Regions from separate parts of the Homo sapiens genome. Here region 1 is linked to region 2. The links come from fine-mapping of genetic effects on gene expression. A gene starts in region 2. The other region holds a variant in brackets. All regions are shown on one strand. Distances are from middle to middle.

Region 1 (10,014 bases), 69 kb after region 2:
AATAAAAGCCATATATGACAGACCCACAGCTAGTATCATACTGAATGAGGAAAAAGTGAAAGCCCTTTCTCTAAGATCTGGAACAAGACAAGACTGCTCACTTTCCACCCCCGTTATTCAACATGGTACTGGAAGTCATAGCTAGAGCAATCAGACAAAAGAAAGAAAGGACATCCAAATTGGAAAGGAAGAAATCAAATTATCCTTGTTTGCAGATGATATGGTCTTATATTTGGAAAAAACAAAAGACTTTATGAGAAACTATTAAAATTAATAAGCAATTTCAGTATAGTTGCTGGAGTTGATTTTTGTACAAAATCAACCTACAAAAATCAGTAGGATTTCCATATGACAATAGCAAAGAGTCTGAAAAAAAATCAAGAAAGTAATCCCATTTGCAATAGCTGCAAATAAAACAAAACACCTAGGAATAAACTTAAGCAAATAAGTTAAAGATTTCTATAATGAAAACTATAAAACAATGATAAAAATTTGAAGAGAACACAAAAAAATGGGAAAATATTCCATGTTCATGGATTGGAAAAATCAATATTGCTAAATTGTTTATCCTACCCAGAGCAAACTATAAATTCAATGCAATCTCTATCAAAATACCAATGAAATTCTTTACAGAAATAGAAAAAGTAATCCTAACATTTATATTAAACCAAAAAAGCCTCAGAATTGCAAAAGCCATCCTGAGCAAAAAGAACAAAACTGGAAGAATCACATTAACTGACTTCAAATTATACTGCAGAACTGTAGTAACCAAAACAGCATGGTACTCACATAAAACCAGACACATACACCAATGGAATAGAATAGAGAACTCAGAAACAAATTCTTACATCTACAGTGAGCTCATTTTTGATAAAGGTGCTAAGAACATACATTAAGATATGGACAGTCTCTTCAAAAAATGGTACTGTGGAAACTGGATATCTATATTCAGAAGACTGCAACTAGAACCCTATCTTTTACCATATACAAAAATCAAATCAAAATGCATTAGACTTAAACCTCAAACTATGAAACTACTAAAGGAAATCATTGGGGAAACTCTCCAGGAAATTGGATTGGGTAAAGATTTCTTGAATCATAGTTCACAAGCTCAGACAACCAAAGCAAAAATGGAGAAGTGGGATTACATCATATTAAAAAGCTCCTGAACAGCAAAGGAAACCATCAGTAAAGTGAAAGGGACAACCCACAGAATGGGAGAAAATATTTGCAAACTATCTAACAAAGGATTAATAACTGGAATACATGAAGAGCTCAGACAACCCAATAGGAAAAAATTTAATAATCTGAGTTTTGAATGGGCAAAATATCTGAATAGGCATTTCTCAAAAGGAGCATACAAGTAGCAAACAGGTGTATGAAAACATGCTCAAAATCATTAATCATTAGAGAAATGAAAATCAAAAATACAATGAAATATCATCTCACCTCAGTTAAAAATGGCTTTTATCCAAAAGGTGCAAGAACGAATGCTGGTGAGGATGTGGAGGAAAGGAAACCCTCATACACTGTTGGTGGGAATGTAAATTAGTACAACCACTATTGAAAACGGTTTGGAGGTTCCCCCAAAAACCTAAAAATAGAGCTACCAGATGATCCAGCAACCCTACTGCTAAGTATATATGCAAAAGAAAGGAAATCAGGATACCAAAAAGATATCTACACTCCTACGTTTATTGCAGCACTATTCACAGTAGCCAAGATTCAGAAGCAACCTAAGTGTCCATCAATAGATGAATGGCTATAGAAAGTGTTACTTATACACAATGAAGTACTGTTCATCCATGAAAAAAGAATGAGATCCTGTCATTTGCGACAACATGGATGTAACTGGAGGTCATTATGTCAAGTGAAATAAGCCAGGTACAGAAAGAAAAAGTGGGCATCTTCTCACTTATTTGTGGGAGCTAAAAAAATTTAAACAATTGAACTCATGGAAATAGAGAATAAAAGGATGGTAACCAGAGACTGGGAAGAGTATTGGGGAGGGGGTGGAAGGAGTGGGAATGGTTAATGGGCACAGAAATATAGTTAGTAAGAATGAATAAGATCTAGTATTTGATAAAACTTATTGTACATTTAAAAATAATGAAAAAGGCCAAGTGCAGTGGCTCATGCCTGTAATCCCAGGTGTGATTTGGGAGGCTAAGGTGGGCAGATCACGAGGTCAAGAGATTGAGACCATCCTGGCTAACATGGTGAAACCCCATCTCTACTAAAAATACAAAAATTAGCTGGCCATGGTGTCATGTGCCTGTAAACCCAGTTACTTGGGAGGCTGAGGCAGGAGAATCAGAGGAGTCAGAGGTTACAATGAGACGAGATTGTGCCACTGCACTCTGGCCTGATGACAGAGTGAGACTCCAGAAAAAAAAAAAAAAGTAGTATAATCAGATTGTTTGCAACACAAAGAAAGGAAAATTCTGGAGGAGATAGATACCGCATTTACCCTGATGTGATTATCATGCATTATATGCTTGTATCAAAATAGCTCATGTACCCCCATCTATATATATATATATATATATATATATATATATATATATACACACACACACCTATTATGTACCTGCAAAAATTAAGTAAAAAACAAAAAGAGAATTTGAAACATTCAGCCTGAAATAACTGATAGATTACCAACACTGAGCTTTTAAGCAGCAACCTCTGTTTGACTCAGCCATTGTATCCTATTTTATGGTTATAAAAATTGTAAATGAATGAAAATTAATGTAAAAATCCAACATACTAACTTTAAATGTGATGATAGTAAAATTAAAGCTATGGAGGAGAAGTACTTCTTGAGTGGAAAGTAAAAACCTCTGAAAATCTGCTTTTATATAAAGCCAGTGAGAACACTGGTGAAAACTATCAAAATCAATGTTTTCCAGAAACCTGAAAATTAACTAAAATCTTAAAACCATCTAAGGAGTGTTTATTTCAGAAAAACAGGTGAATCTCAGTAATATCTGCAATCTTTGTGGTGTTTTAACTTGCCTTAATGCCATTTTCTTTTCTTTAGCCTTTCAACTACAGTAGTTACGGAAAACGTTAGCGTAGCAGCCACTGGAGAAGGCAAAATTCATTTGGAGATATGCAAAGCCCCCATCCTCAAGACTTGTCACAATTTGACCAGTCTGGAAACTCACTGAAAAGCCCCTTTCTCAAAACTTGTCTTTATTTGACTTTACTTAGAGCTAACTCTGTGTGAAGAGCCCTTTCTCTGTGGCATTTGACAAAAACAATGAACAACAAGTGTTTAACATTGTAGTTGCCTGAAGCATCATTACTAGTGGGGTTAAACATGAGACTGACCAAAGAATAAAAGCAAAAACAGGGGAACAACATGCCCATAGAATTTTTTAAAAGGTCTGACAGATTCCTGAGAATCTAGAAGGTCATGTGCACGAGCAGGGCTATATCATGCCCATTAAAGATGTGAGGAACCTATAATCTCTTACCTCTTGGTGGACTTAAGGCTCTTCACAAGCAGAAGTGAAGGCTAAGGCATAACTATAAACCTCTGTTGTAGCATGGAGATGTACCCCAACACAAAAACATACACATATACCTGCATGCACATATACAGACACACACACAAATAGTCACATAGCTCCTCAGCAAAATTAAGAGACTTAGTGGTTCAAAGCATTTAAGGAAATATCTGTCCAGTCATTACATGATGTCTTAGTCCATTTGGTGCTGCTATAACAGAATACCTGAGACTGGGTAATTTATAAAGAAAAGAAATCTATTTTTTAAAGTTCTGGAGTCTGGAAAGTCAAAGGTCAACGCATCATCCTAATGGGGAAGAATAAAGGACAAAAGAGCACATACAAGAAAGCAAGAGGAAAGGGACCAAGCTCATTCTTTTATCATGAGCCCACTCCTGTGATAACTAATTCATTCATGAGGGCAGAGCCCTTATGACCTAATAATCTCTTAAAAGTCCCACCTCTCAATGTTGTTGAATTGGAGATTAAGTTTCCAAAACATGAACTTTTCAGGACACATTCAAATTATAGCATTCTAGCCCTGGCCTTCAAAGTTCATGTCCTTCTTACAATGCAAAATACATTCATTCCATCTCAATAGTCCCAAAAGTCTTACCTCCTTCCAGTATCGACTCAAAATTTCAAAATCCAAAGTCTCATTTAAAATCACATGTGGGTAAGACTCAAGGCATCATTCGTCTCGAGGCAAATTCCTCTCCATCTGTGAGCCTGTGAAATTAATCAAATTATCTACTTCCAAAGTACAATGCTGGGGCCTGGCATGGTGGCTCATGCCTGTAATCCCAGCACTTTGGGACGCCGAGGTGGGTGGATCACCTGAGGTCAGGAGTTCAAGACCAGCATGGCCAGTATTGCGAAACCCCATCTCTACTAAAAATACAAAAATTAGCCAGGCGTGGTGGTGCATGCCTGTAATCCCAGCTACTTGGGAGGCTGAGGCAGGAGAATCACTTGAACCTGGGAGGCAGAGGTTGCAGTGAGCCAGGATCATGCCATTGCACTCCAGCCTGGGAGACAGGAGTGAAACAACATCTAAAAAAAAAAAAAAGAAAGAAAAAGAAAATGCAATGTTGACACAAGCCTACCACAGACATTCCCATTCCAAAAGGGAGAATTAGGCAAGAAAAAAGTAGTAACAGATTCCAAGCAAGTCCAAAACCCAACAGGGAAAACAACATTAAATCTTAAAGCTGGACATAATATCCTTTGACTCCATGTCCCACATCCTGGTCACATTGGGGCAGGCATTGGGCCCCTAAGGCCTCAGGCAACCCTCCCCATATGGCTTTGTTGGGTTCAAACCACCCAGCAGCTCTCACAGGTTGGAGTCTCTTGACTGGTTCTTTCCCAGACTGTAATTGCACACTGGTAGCTCTATAATTCTTGAGTCTCTGAGGTGGCTTTTCTCCTGTGGCTTCACTAGGCATTGCCCTAGTCAGGGCTCTCTGCAGTGGCTTCATCCCTGCAACAAGTTTCTGCCTGGGTCCCCAGGCTGTCCAGAACATCTTTTGAAGTCTAGTTGGGGGCCTCCATGGCCCCACAGCTCATGAAATCAGTAAGTCTGCAGAATCAGCACTACATGAACCCTGCTAAGACTTATCCCTTGTGTCCCCGGAGCTGCAGCACAAACTTCACCTGGGCCTGCTTAAGCCACAGCTGGCATGGCTGAGGGGTGCTGTGCTGGAATGTGAGAAACAGAGTCCCAAGGCAACTCCAGGCAGTGAATACAGAGGTCCCCTGGAAGCCTCTCTGGAGATGTTGCCCTTAAGATCTTCTGGATCTATTTTGGGAGGGGCATTCTCAGAGATCTCTGAAATGTCTTTGAGGTCTTTCTCTCATTGTCCTGATGAATAGCACCTGGTCCCCTTCTCTCCCTAGTAATCTCTTTAGCAAAGGGTTGCTTGGTCACACCTTTAGTATTCTCTCCTCAGCACACTTTTTTTTTATTCTTTACATGGCCAGGCTGAGAGTTTTATAAATCTTTTCCTCCTGTTTCTCTTTTAATTGTAAATTTTACCTTTTAGTCATTTCTTTTTTTGCACATCTCACTATATGAGGTAAAAGGCAGTCATACAACTCCTTCAGTAATTTGCTTAGAAATTTATTCTGGCAGATACTTTAGTCCATTGCTTGTACATTCTGTCTTCCATATAAAGTATTTGACATGGAAGCAATTCAGCCA[C/T]GTTCTTTGCCAATTTATAACAAGGATAGCCTTTACTCCAGGTCCCAATAAGATGTCTCCCATTTCCATCTGAGACCTCATCAAAATGGCCTTTACTTTTCATGTTTCTACAAACATTCTGATTATGACTACTCAAATAATCCCTAAGAAGATTCAGACTTTCCTTACATCTCACCATTTCTTCTGAGCACCCCCCAGAATCACCTTTAATGCTTCCTTCATGGCAATACAGGGTTTTTCTAGCCTGCTCTTTCAAATTCATCCAGCCCCTCCCCATTGCACATTTCCAAAGCCACTTCCACATTTCCAGGTGTTTGTTATAGCAGCACCCCTACTTCTTGGTACCAGTTTTCTGTCTTAGTCTATTTGGTGCTGCTATAACAAAACCTTTGAGATTAGAAAATGTGTAAAGAACAGATATTTATTTCTTATGATTGTGGAGACTGGGAAGTCTAAGCTGGAGGGGCCTGCCTCTGGCAAGGGCCTTGTGAATGCATTATCCCATGGTGGAAGGCAGAAGGGCCAAAGAGCATGCACAAGAGAGAATGAGGAAGTAAACTGAATTTATCTTTGTATTATGAACTAACTTCTATGATAACTAACCCACTCTCACAATAATGGCATTAAGTTATTCATGAGGGCAGAGTCCTTATGATCCACTCTCCTCTTACAGATCCCACCTCTCAAAACTGTTGCACTGGAAATTAAGTTTCCAACATGAATTTTGGGGGACACATTAAACCACAGCAGATGACCAATAAGGTAACTGTGCAGAGACTTCAGTGACCATATACTATTGAATACAGTCTCTATAGAATTAGTTCAGTAAAGTTACTAAACAAAGGGATTCTAACAACAACAACAAAGAGCAAATAACAGTAACAACAAACCTCAGGGACGATCTAGTTTGCAGAGTTTCCACATTACATTATCAAATATGTTTGATTTTCAATTTAAAATTATGAAACACATAAAGAACTAATAGGTTAGTTCATACACAGAAAAATGCAGTAGAACCTGTTCCTAAGGAAGCTCAGACATTGGGCTTGATTGAGGCCCCAGATTGGCTTCATAGGCTTGAATTACCAAGTTTTTCTCTCCACATAAGATTTAATGAGCAACTGTCAAATAGCTACTTTGGTTATTGCATCACTGATACAACCAAAATCAGAATCAGTTGTGTTCAAGAAACAGTCTACATATAAAATCTAGATTATGTAACTGTGTTTTTTTTTTCCCTTAGGTGTAAGTACGCAGAAGTCAGGGACTTCTATATTTTATATTTTTTACAATCATGTGGGCATAGGTATCTTTCTTGAAGCCATAAATATTTAAATGTTGAAAACCTCTTTGGGTACAATGGAATGATCTGGCTTTAGTTATAAAGAACCTACCAGACACTCCTGTAAATGTTGTCACTTAGTAAACTAAAACCACATTTTGCAATATACACTTTTGGATATCATAGTCGACAAGGAGAATGCTAAATTTATGACAGATGCACTGCTTGGAAAAGTACCAGGTATACAATAACTTTTAATACTGTCTTTTTATTATAAATACAGTTTCAAATGTTAATATCAACTTGAATACAAATCTGGAAGTATTATTCTCTAAGAATATGAGAGTTGAATTGAAATAGAATACATTATTTAACCAATGGTTATATGGCAGTTGAAGTAGAGTGAAAAATTCTCATTTTAGTATTGACTCTTAGATATTTGCATGTGTTTTATGACAGATACATTATCCAAAATATTTCATATCTGTATAAAAAATATGAATTAAGATAATCCTCTTGCATCTGTTTATTCCTGCTGCTCACCCCCCACCCCCCGCCATAGCATCAAGAGATTATTATAGGGCATATACAGGATAAAACAAGAAGTTACTTTGTGATAAATCTACAATCTTCAAATATCTTTCAGAATTCTTGTTAGAAACTTGCTTGGTAACCCTGACCGGAGGCCTTTGATGTGTCACCATTTTCATTGTTCTGAACTGTTTATAGCTCAGCAGGAATAATGACATGAATAGTTTGACTGTAGAGATGTGAAATTAGAGTGAACACTTGTCAAGATTTTTTTCATCAGAATTAAATATTGCTAATTTAAAATGGGTCAGAGTAACATTTTTCTCATGTATTTTGTTCATTCCATTATTTAAATTTAGATCATTTGATACATATTATGACAATTGTCTCATTTCTAGATCATCAGACCCCATCATCAAATAATATTTATTAAGCTTCTGCATGCTCATTGATCCAGAGTTATTGCTATACAATAGCAGTTAAGGAAAGAGAAGACAATCCTTTAAAAACAAAATACCTTGCTTTCCAGCCAAACAAACACTTTTATGTGTCTAATGGACATAAATATAATGTTTCTTCACTACGCCCATCCATTTGACTACCATTTCTAGTTCTAAAACTCTGTATGAAATTTTAAAGATACTTTTGAATCATTAGCAGACACATTAAGATATATTGCACATTAAATTTTTATGATATACTTGAGTTTAGACCAATTGCTTTTCAATTTATTTCAATGTGAAGAAGATGTGGAAATTAATGTTAGAATTTGTATTATTTAGATGAAGGGAATGTAGCGATGAGTTTTGTAAAGGAACTGGTCATCGAAAGGAAGGGGAAAAGATGAAAATAAAACAAAATAAGAATATAAAATAGCCAGAGAGATTATACGATCATGTATTAACTCCTCCTGAGAATAAAATATTATATTGTTATGTTTGAGGCTCATTTTGACTCAGTTCCTAGTTAAGAGTTGGCTAACAAAAAGTATATCATTGTAATGAATGCTTTCACTGTTCTTGTTCTTGTTGTTAAACCTATATTCTCCCCAGGCTGTGTAATCCACTTTTGTTACTCTTTGCTGGAGTCACTAGATGATACACAAAGGAAATTTTGTGGCACTAACTCAGTTTCGCACATTTTTGGCTATGAAATGTGGAAGAAATTATTGAAACTAATATCTAAATGTAGCTATTCTATAACTTCTATCTAGCCATGTTAATTTTGTTCTCTATTAAGAGGAAATAAAAGAGGAAATAAAAGAAATATTTTTCTAATGAATTCAGGGTGGGGCTAAAAGTTAAATATTTATAGATTTCTTCTTTAGTCTTTTACTTAAAGGAAACTTGGGGATATTTCTCACTTATGTTTTGAATGCTTAACGTATCCATAATAAAATACATTTATAATTAGCTGTTACTCTTAGGAAGACAAAGTTAACTTTAGCTGTTAATAGGATCTTACATATACTCATTTACTTATGCATCTGTTTCCAAATGCTTCCAAAAGTTTTATTTTCTTTACTTTAAATTTTGTGTTCTCTAAAACAAGTTTTTATCTTTTTTGACATTCACTATACAGCAAATTGAAGATGTCCGTCAGTATCCTCTTCCTGAAAAAGTAAGAGAGAAGGAAAAGTTGACCTTTTGGTGACAAGTTTATGGTTACCACAACTGGGAACTACTTTGCAACTCCGTGTCCCTGTTTCACTGTATTTAAACATTCTTTGACATTTCAAATGATTGTTAAACTTAATTATATATGAGCATAACTCATTGTCTGAAACTATTTCTTTCTAGGTAAACAGGATTATAAAAAAACTAAACCTATTTTACGAGCAACCAAATTAAAAGCAGAAGCAAAGAAAACAGCAATAGGCATAAAGGTAAACCTCTATTTGATAACTTTAAAATTTGATATGTGCATGCCATTTCATTTTCTAAAACTGGATTGCATAAATGTTGAATTCTAAATGTTTTATGACATTTCACAATCTAAATAGAATGCCAGACTTAAAGGTTTTTGTAAAGAATTTACTTAATGGAAAACATCCTTCCTATTCTGAGATTTTGAAGGGTCTTAAAACAGTGTCACTTAAGAGAATCAGTTATACTTAAAGGTGCAATTTATTTTCTCTCTAGCTACTATGTGTATTATTCAGACATTTCAGTGATATATGTGGCCTTCGTCAGAAATTTCTTTCGTTTTTCAATAAATCTCATTTTATAGTTGTTTAAATTGTAGTTGTAATTATATATACTGAGATCATTAATTATGTAATTTTACTCTGCTTATCTTATTGTTGTCAGTACTCTCTGATGAAATTATAATGACATTCCTAAACTTGTTCTTTCAGAATACCAGTGTTTTATCTGCTTAAGAGGGATAAATGCAACTGAGAATGATGTTAGCAGATATTAATTTAATGTGCTAACACAATGAAGCTCAACAAATTGCATTTACATTATTGCCCATGTCAATCTTTT
Region 2 (10,014 bases):
AAATGAGACCTAATTAAACTAAAGAGCTTCTGCATAGCAAAAGAAACTATCATGAGTGAAAAGATAACCTACAGAATGGGAGACAATTTTTGCAGTCTATCCATCTGACAAAGGTCTAATATCTACAATCTACAGGGAACTTAAACAGATTTACAAGAGAAAAACAACCCCATTAAAAAGTGGGCAAAAGACACGAACAGGGACATCTCAAAAGAAGACATCTATGTGGCCAAGAAACATATGAAAAAAAGTTCAACATCACTGATCATTAGAGAAATGCAAACAAAACCTATAATGAGATACCATTTCACACCAGTCAGAATGGCAATTATTAAAAAGTCAAGAAACAACAGATGCTGGTGAGACTGTGGAGAAATAGGAACACTTTTACACTGTTGGTGGAAATGTAAATTAGTTCAACCATTGTGGAAGACAGTGTGGCAATTCCTTAAAGACCTAGAAGCAGAACTGCAGAACCACCATTCCACTCAGCAATCCCATTGCTTGGTATATACCCAAAGGAATACAAATCATTCTATTATAAAGATACATGCATGCGCATGTTCATTGCAGCACTATGCACCATAGCAAAGACATAGAATCAACCCAAATGCCCATCAATGATAGACTGGATAAAGAAAATGTGGTACATATACACCATGGAATACTATGCAGCCATAAAAAGGAATGAGATCATGTCCTTTGCAGGAACGTGAATGGAGCCAGAAGCCATTACCCTCGGCAAACTAATGTAAGAACAGAAAACCAAACACTGAATATTCTCACTTATAAGTGGGAGCTGAACAATGAGAACACATGGACACAGGGAGGGGAACAACATACACAGGGACCTGCTAGGGGAGGATTTGGAGAGGGAGAGCATCAGGATAAATAACTAATGCATGCTGGGCTTAATATCTAAGGGATGGGTTGATAGGTGCAGCAAACCAGCATGGCACAAGTTTACCTGTGTAACAAACCCACATATTCTGCAAATGTATCCTGGAACCTAAAATTTAAAAAAAATTAATTTTTTTTAAAAAAAGAAAATATAAACAAATGCACAAGCATAGTTGGAGATTTAACACCTTTCTTTCAATAAGTGATAGAATATGCTTAAAAATGTTGGTAAGGATCACTATGGCATATGTATACCTAAGTAACAAATCTGCACATTCTGCACATGTATCCTAGAACTTAAAGTAAAATGAAAAAATAAAATAAATAAATAAAATGTTTTTAAAAGCAAAAAAAAAAAACTGTCATAAGATATAGACTATAATCAACATTTAGAGCATACTGCATTCCATAATTTCAGAATACACATTTTTTTTCCAAATACACTGAGAACAGTCATAAAGATAAACCATATGTTGGGTTATAATATATGTGTCAATAATTTTCAATAAAATTTGAAATATTACAATATATATTTTCTAACTACAATGGAATTAAAAGTCAATAACTGTAAGATATTAGACAACTCTCAAATACTTGGAAACACAGAAACATAATTCTAAATATGTAACCAAAAAAGAGCCCATATAGCCAAGAAAATCCTAAGCAAAAAGAACAAAGAGGGGCATCATGTTACCTGACTTCAATCTATACTACAGTAACCAAAACAGCATGGTACTGGTACCAAAACAGATATATAGACCAGTGGAACAGAACTGAGGCCTCACAAATAACACCACACACCTACAACCATCTGATCTTTGACAAACCTGACAAAAACAAGCAATGGGGAAAGGATTCCCTATTTAATAAATGGTGTTGGGAAAACTGGCTAGCTATATGCAGGAAACTGAAACTGGACCCCTTCCTTATACCTTATATAAATATTAACTCAAGATGAATGAAAGACTTAAACGTAAGACCTAAAACCATAAAATCCCTAGAAGAAAACCTAGGCAATATCATTCGGGACATAAGCATGGGCAGAGACTTATAACTAAAATTCCAAAAGCAGTTGCAACAAAAGCCAAAATTGACAAATGGGATCTAATTAAACTGAAGAGCTTCTGTATAGCTGAAGAAATTATCATTAGAGTAAACAGGCAACCTACAGAATGGGAGAAACCTTTTGCAATCTATCCATCTGACAAAGGGCTAATATCCAGAATCTACAAGGAACTTAAACAAATTTACAAGAAAAAAACAAACAACCGCATCAAAAAGTGGGTGAAGGATATGAACAGACACTTTTCAAAAGAATACATTTATGCGTCCAATAAGCATATAAAAAAAGCTCATTATCACTGGTCATTACAGAAATGCAAATCAAAACCACAATGAGATACCATCTCATGCTAGTTAGAATGGTGATCATTAAAAAGGCAGGAAACAACAGATGCTGGAGAGGATGTGGAGAAATAGGAATGCTTTTACACTGTTGGTGGGAGTGTCAATTAGTTCAACCATTGTAGAAGACAGTGTGGTGATTCCTCAAGGATCTAGAACCAGAAACGCCATTTGACCCAGGAATTCCATTACTGGGTATATGCCCAAAGGATTATAAATCATGCTACTATAAAGACACATGCCAACGTATGTTTATTGCAGCACTATTCACAATAGCAAAGACTTGGAACCAACCCAAATGCCCATCAATAATAGACTGGATAAAGAAAATGTGGCACATATACACCATAGAATACTATGCAGCCAATTATATTTCAATTTGCTAGAAATGTAAGTCAATAATATATGTCTTTATATGGTAAAGAAATAAGCATATAACATACATCTGGAAGTTTTAATTTTACATTAAGCTATTTACTTCTTGTTGTATAATATCTTACATATGTGAGAATATTCAATGCATTTGCTGTACAAATGCATTGCTGTACATCTTTATGTAATGAAAATGGACTCAAGTACATTCACCACTTTTATTTAAATCTTACAGCATTTATTTATATATTTATTAATATATAATCATAACTCTTTCTTTTTAGTCTAAAACTAATTTTTTTTTTTTTTTTTTTTTGAGATGGAGTCCCACTCAGTTGCCCAGGCTGGAGTGCAATGATGCAATCTCGGCTCACTGCAACCTCTGCCTCCCGGGCTCAAGCAATTCTCCTGCCTCAGGCTCCTGAGTAGCTGGGATTACAGGTGCCTGCCACCATGCCTGCCTAATTTTTGTATTTTTAGTAGAGACGGGGTTTCACCATGTTGGCCAGGCTGGTCTGGAACTCCTGACCTCAGGCAATCCGTCCACCTCAGCTTCCCAAAGTGCTGGGATTACAGGCATGAACCACCACACCTGGCCAAACCAAATATTTTTAAAAGATTAAAGAAAATGGGGACTCTGAGTCATACAAATCAAGAAAGTTTTATAGAGAGTTATTCACATTTAGCAAGCTTTCAGAAGAATTTGGATATTCAGCAGGTCAAGAGTGTAAAATTATTTGTAATTGGAATGGGTTTCTTTTATTCCAACAATTGCATCACAGTACGATGAACATTTTAATTGAATCTCAAGGCACTTGTCCAGAGGTACTCTTTTTTTTTTTCTTTTTTCTTACTACAACCGTATCTATCAGACAAGATAAACCCTTCTGGGTTTTGGTTTAATATGGAAGGAAAAAGAGTTTCACTATTTTAAAGCCACACACATAAGTAATCTGGTTAAGTGTATTAATATAATCTCATTTAACTCTACCTTTATTTCTGGGAGAGGAACTGGAGACCAGAAAATGATTTAGGAGGACGGAAAATAAAATTACATTTTGGATTCAATTCCTGGCCATAATATTCTGTGAGATTTCAGAAAGCCTTCTGGTTAGTCTATTTATACTTGTCTCAGTTTTTTTTTTTTTTTTTTTTTTGTATGCTACTTTCTTTCTCAAGGGCTTTTGGAAAAAGATATGATGGGGCTGGCCTAGAGGAAGGTGACTTTTATGTGAGCAAGAGAAAAATTAAATTGGAGGTTGCATAATTTTTTGAAGGAATTTTAGATTTAGTTCACCACAATATTAAAAAATGATGGCTGCAGGCACTTAGATTTGTTGAATGGTTGAATAAATCTAGCCTTTCCTAGCCTGTGTTTCATTGTCCATAGGCTGTGGATAATACTCTTAGTGGGTTTTGTAAGGATTACATGAGTATAATTTATAAAGCATTTAATATTTGAATACTTTTCCAATAAGTAACATCTTAATATTTCATTCCCATTTTGTAGATGTGAAAATTGAGTACCCGAACATAGGCTCCTAAATCCTAATTGTCAGTCACGTTTTTGCAATCTTTCCTAAATTTATTAATCTCTGGTTAATGTTAATATAAAACGATTTTTTTTTCTTTTTTGCTGTTTGAATGGGCAATTAATTGATTGTTTACACAGACAGTGCGCCCTTCCACTTAGGGACGCTCCTTAGGGATGATCCTGTGAATTGGGGAGTGTGTGTGTGTGAGATGGGAGGGTTCAATAATCAAAATAACATATTTTTCCGTTTTATATTAACTAAACAAGTCACAGTCTTTATTTTTAATTTCTACAGTCACCTCGTGAGACAGGTATTAGAACTCCGGAGTGGCATCAAAATGAGGGAAAGGCCTCAGGGCCAGCGCCTTTGCGTCCTGGACCGGCGTACAGACGGGAGAAAGGCCGACCAATCCGAGAGCAGGCTGAGGCCTGGTCCCGCCCCTGGGGGCAGAGCCTCGCCTCTTTTCCGCCTCACCCTTTGGGAGTAGGGGTGTGCGGCTGGCTTGTCCCGCCCCTGCCCCTGAGTGACAGAACCGTGGACAGCAACATTTCCCACAGGACACGAAGTTTGTCGGCCCTTGCCTTGGCAGAGCTGAGGTGTGTGTCCGGCGAGTGCGAGGGGATTGGGGAGACCCTGCCCGGGAAGCTCGGGGTCCGGGAATGAAAGCGGGCGCACCTCTTTAGCGAGCCCTAAAGCGTTTGGGAGACGATCGTTCCGTCCCTGGGAGCGGCACTTGGTGGGGCTGGGCGGAGGGAGGCTCTGCAAGAGAAACCCGGAGTCCGGGAAACCCAGTAGGTACGGTGATCACTGAAGGACCCGTTCCCGTTGAGTAGGGCGCTGGCTGCGGGATGGGGGATGGAGGGTGCTGGGTTCGGTGGGCGTGGCCATTGCGGTTGCTAAGGAACGCGCGGTTCCCGCCCTGCCAGCGTGTCTGGCGCCAGCCGCTGGGCCCTGGACACGTTAGTCCCGCCCACCTCCCAAGGTCTTCCACGCGGCTCGGGATTGGCTCCTTTGTGCTGACCGATTACTCGCGGTCGCTTACTTGTCAGTGCAGCTCTCTGGGTTCTGCCGTTCCCTTTTGGGGCCCCCTTTCCCATGGTACTCCTCTTCACTCTTTTTCCTGCTTCCTCTTATTAATGAACGAGTATTTGCATACCAAAACATTTGCAGAGAAGAGATTCAGACAGGATTAGGTGGCTTTATCGGTGGTGGTGAGGTTGTGGGGCGGGGGTATTTTTCTTGGAGCTTGGTGTATTCCTGAATCCATCAGATGTTGGTGTCCGCGTGGATGACTAGGAAAAGGGGATTGGAGATTAGGTTTCTTCTACTTGGAGTTCTCTGCTGCTTGTTTGAGCTTAATAAGCCTCCTGAAGAAGTTGAAGCAATTTATTGCTAGAGGAGCCCCAATGTATAATCTCCCTTTCATTCTCTACTGTGGAGAGGTGTGCTAAACCTGTAGAGCTGTTTTTGCTTCACTCGGCTCATACTTAATGATCAACAAGTATGGTGTGAGATGGTAACCTCAGATAACCATTTTAAATCTGCCTTTGTTTGCTCATATACTCTGTCTCCTAATGATTCAGCACAACAAACATTCCAGAGAGAAAAAACAAAAGAGGTAAAAATCTTTTATTTTCCTCTGGCAGGTTTACAGTGCAAACCCCCAGGAAGGAAGCTTGTGCTGCTTGTTAACATTGGGAGGAGCATTGGCCTACAAGTCAGGAAACTGGCATGGTTAAGAAATGTTTGTCCTTGGGCAATAATTGTTTCGTTATCTGTAAATTGGAGACTCTAGGATATGCCCTTCCTTCCTAAAAAAGGAGGAATAATTGGTTGTGAAAGTATCATTAAAGTAATGATCCACACAAATGTAAAGCATTATTGATTACACTTTTAATCTTTTTGTGTATATGATCCAAATTTATAAACACGTATAAGTATTGCCATTCAGCTTTAAGTATTTTCAAATTTCCCTTGTGATTTTTTTTTTTTTTAATCTTAGGGTTATTTAGAAATGGGGAAGAAATTAACTCATCTATTCATTATTGATTCTGTGTTGGTTCTGGTTAGGTAGAACCTGTAATGTCTTGAATGACACCTTTTCCTCTTTAATATCACTAGATATATATATATATATAGATATATATATATACCTGAAAAGATTGGGAAACATTACCTTTTAATGCGAGGATGACTAACCTTTTTGGTGTCATTTACCACTTTGAGAAACCAAGGAAAGCTATTGACTTGCTCCTCAGAAAAATGCACAATTTTAAGCCTAAATGGACCCTGTTTTTGTTCAACTTCTTTAGGGATAAGGAAATTATTCTCTCCCACTTGCCTCATCCTACAGAGAGACTAAGTAACTTTTACCCAAGGCTACATAGCTGGGAGCAGAGTGGGGCTTTTGCCTTTCTTCCACAGTGCCTCTTACCATAACATACCTTTGTTCAAGGCCTTCAGTCATCTGCAGTTCCCTTTTGGGGCCCCCTTTCCCATTGTACTTTTTTGTTTTTTTGAGCACTAACAAACGGGAACTACTAATGTTCAGTTATTTGTTGCTATCTTACAAAACCATGTAATCTATGTTTTATCCCAAATGCCCTTTGATCATAACCTCTTAAAGCATATTCTGGTATTTAAACAAGTAAAAAGAACATTGTCAAATATTTTGAGAAAAATGTGAAACTGTATTTTTTTTTTTTTTTTGAGACGGAGTTTCACTCTTGTTGCCCAGGCTGGAGTGCAATGGCGCTATCTCAGCTCACCACAACCTCTGCCTTCCTGGTTCAAGCAATTCTCCTGCCTCAGCCTCCCGAGTAGCTGGGATTACAGGAGTGCACCACCACACCTGGCTAATTTTGTATTTTTAGTACAGACGGGGTTTCTTCATGTTGGTCAGGCTGGTCTCGAACTCCCAACCTCAGGTGATCCGCCCGCCTCGGCCTCCCAAAGTGTTGAGATTACAGGGGTGAGCCACCGCGTCTGGCCAAAATTGTACTTTTGAGATGAACATTAAATCCATAAACTTTCTCATCTATCGAGGTCCGTTTTGGACAAAGAAAAGCTGATTATTTTTAGTACATGCCACTGGAATATCATTACTTGATACTTAGAACTGTTTTTTTTTTTTTAAACTTAAGTGAATAATCTTTTATAACATTTTAATTTGTGGCTAAAAAGAATTGTGGTTGTTTTCACTGTGGCTCTTTTCCTGATTTCTATATTCATATAGAAATCTGTAAATAGAGTTCATTATTTTCTTTGGTCTGATTCCCTATCTAGCTTTATCAATAAAAGTGGATATCAGTAGTAGATATAAAAAGTTGTTATTGGATAAGGAAAAACTTGAAGAGGTAAAGAGCTATTGCTTTTGTAAAACGCATAAATGTATATATGCACCTGTTATTTCGTTAGTACTTGTAATTTTATTTGAACTGTTTGGTACTTGACTCTTTCTTTATTCAACTCTGTTCATTTCTGGTAGAGAAACAGGGATAAAGACAAATGGCTTAGAGAGAGCATTACAATGGATTTAGAGATTTTTAGGGGCTCAATAATAGCTCTTTCCTTCCTCTCTTGCGTTTGTAAACAGACATGTGGCGCCTGCCATATCAACTTCAACTTGCAATAACAAGTCGAGTGGGGATAGTGCTTTATGCAAAAATGAGACCAAAAATGAGTACTAGTACTTCCTATCCCCTTTTACTCCTACTCTCTTTCCCAGAACCTAGACTTTAGTTCAGCTGAGAGAAAAATTTCAGATTGCGGAACAGATACGCTTACTTACAATTACTGCTTTTCATGGTGTAGGGCAGAGGTCTAATAAAAGATGGAAAATCTCCAGTGCTTAGTGGTTTATAATGGGTTAGCTCTACCGGTGGAGTAATGTGAACCGGTCAGATACGTCTCTTTTTGGTAAGCTGTGAAGAAGAAGTGGGATCTGAGGCCAGGACTGTTAATCTAGTGCTCTGGTTTTCCATTTCCAGAATGGTTTTCCATTCTGGGTGACACCTCTGGGGTATTTGAAATATGCCAGGGTGTTTTAAAATTATTCTAATTTCTTTAAAGGAAGTACTACTGGCTTTTGGGATCCTGAAGTTCAGAGATGATAAATATTGTGTAATGTAGAGATCTATCAGCTCAATAAAGAATTTCTTTGTCTCACTCCAATGCCAAAGCATCTTTTGAGAGTCCCTGCTCCAGTGGACATTCTTCTATGTAGAAACGCGAAACTCAGCCAGCTTTCTCCTTAATCTTTGTGCATATGTATCTGTGTTTTTGATATCAGTAGATTTGACTCAAAGTGTTAATGTCTTAAACAATATTACTTAGAATTTTGTGGTTTTTTGGTATTCATCCAGAGTGACTAAAATAATACTAATGGAAAATAGTGATACATATTTGATCATATTTGATATTCTCAAATTTCCTATTAAACAGATAAGGATCATGTAGGCCTAGAGCTAATTTTTCATACCATTATATATATTTATACCTTTTTTATATGGTAGAAATGTTCAGCATCTTTGCAACAATAGAGTGAGATAGGTGTATGTTTCCATGAAAAATAAATGATTCCTACTTAATTCGTAATTTTGAAATGTTAAACAATAAAAAGGTAAATACTCCATATTCAGTGGTTTAACAGTTTTTTTGACTCAAAAGGCAAAGACAGTTCCATTAATGAAAGACTCTTGTCAGTCACATGACTTTTAAGCCACTGAAGTGGAGAATGACAACAGCATAAACTAGCTTAGTTCTTCTGTAGTAGTATTATTTAGTGACGTAGTTGCAAAAATAACAGACCAATTGTATTGAACAATTTAAAAGTTTGACAATGACAAAAGAAAGATAGGTTAATCCAAATAACATTTGTTTTACATACTTTGAATGTTAAAATATTCAAATATTGCAGGGTATGGAATAATGAACTATATGGATACCTGTGGCAAAGTCCTAATTGTGGATTATAGTTTATTACCTATAGCAGGTGGAAGGTGCACTGTATTGAAAGTTTTAGACTTAGCTCTGTAGGTAGAAATATCCTTTGTTGGGTATTAATAACTTTCCAGTCAAGTTAATTATCTATGTGGAAAAGGTTGAAGATTTTTCTTTTTTTTGAACAACATGCTTGAGCATTATAATACGTTGCCGTCATTCACAGTGACTCAGTATATAGTACTGAATCTCTCTGGGCAGAGGAGGTATATCAGATTTTTTTTTTCAGGATGGGAAGGTACAGTTTTAAAAAGAACCTCCCAGTTTCCGATTCTGCTTTGTCTGCATTCCTAGGGAGTTCATTTTCTGCCTCCCCTCAACACCGTCCCCTTTATCGATAAATGGAAAACACTGGCTTATGTAGAAATTATCTATACAGTTTTTTCAGTGCTAAAATATTCTGGATAAATTAACATTTGAAAATAAATCAAGTGAAACAAGACATCCTACAAAATCAAGGCAGAGGTTATCAGTAGAAAACTCAGAGGCATACCTATGAATCTCTAAAAATAATTTTAAGCTAAGGAAGGAAGAACATTTCGGGGAGTTATTTGCCGTCCAACACATTCAAGAATACATGGCTTCTATGGATAGGAGAACTTCATGTAAAAATAACAGACAGTGATGAAGTGTCAGAGAGAAGATAGTAAGAGAAAACAAAATGATGAGAAACTGAAAATATGAGAGCCGTATCAGTTTTGTTCCTCTTATAACACATTACCCCACATTTAGTGACTTAAAATAACACAAATTTAGTATCTGACAGTTCTGTGGTTCAGAAGTCTGATATAGGTCACTTTGG

Evidence for each region. PIP is the estimated chance that this variant, and not a neighbour inherited with it, causes the effect.
Region 1: its variant is fine-mapped to the expression of TRIQK in whole blood (TOPMed, PIP 0.97).

Annotation. Positions count from the first base shown.
Region 1 is chr8:92,891,388-92,901,401 of GRCh38, reverse strand. It overlaps TRIQK (triple QxxK/R motif containing), which reads left to right. Exons shown (of 5, transcript NM_001171797.2): 4 at 9,328-9,413. Among named protein-coding and RNA genes, the nearest start is that of TRIQK, 70 kb to the left of the region's middle. The variant C/T (reference allele first, on the strand shown) is at 5,716.
Region 2 is chr8:92,960,800-92,970,813 of GRCh38, reverse strand. It overlaps TRIQK (triple QxxK/R motif containing), which reads left to right and starts at 4,670. Exons shown (of 5, transcript NM_001171797.2): 1 at 4,670-4,807. RefSeq lists a silencer at 4,574-4,683 and an enhancer at 5,354-5,463.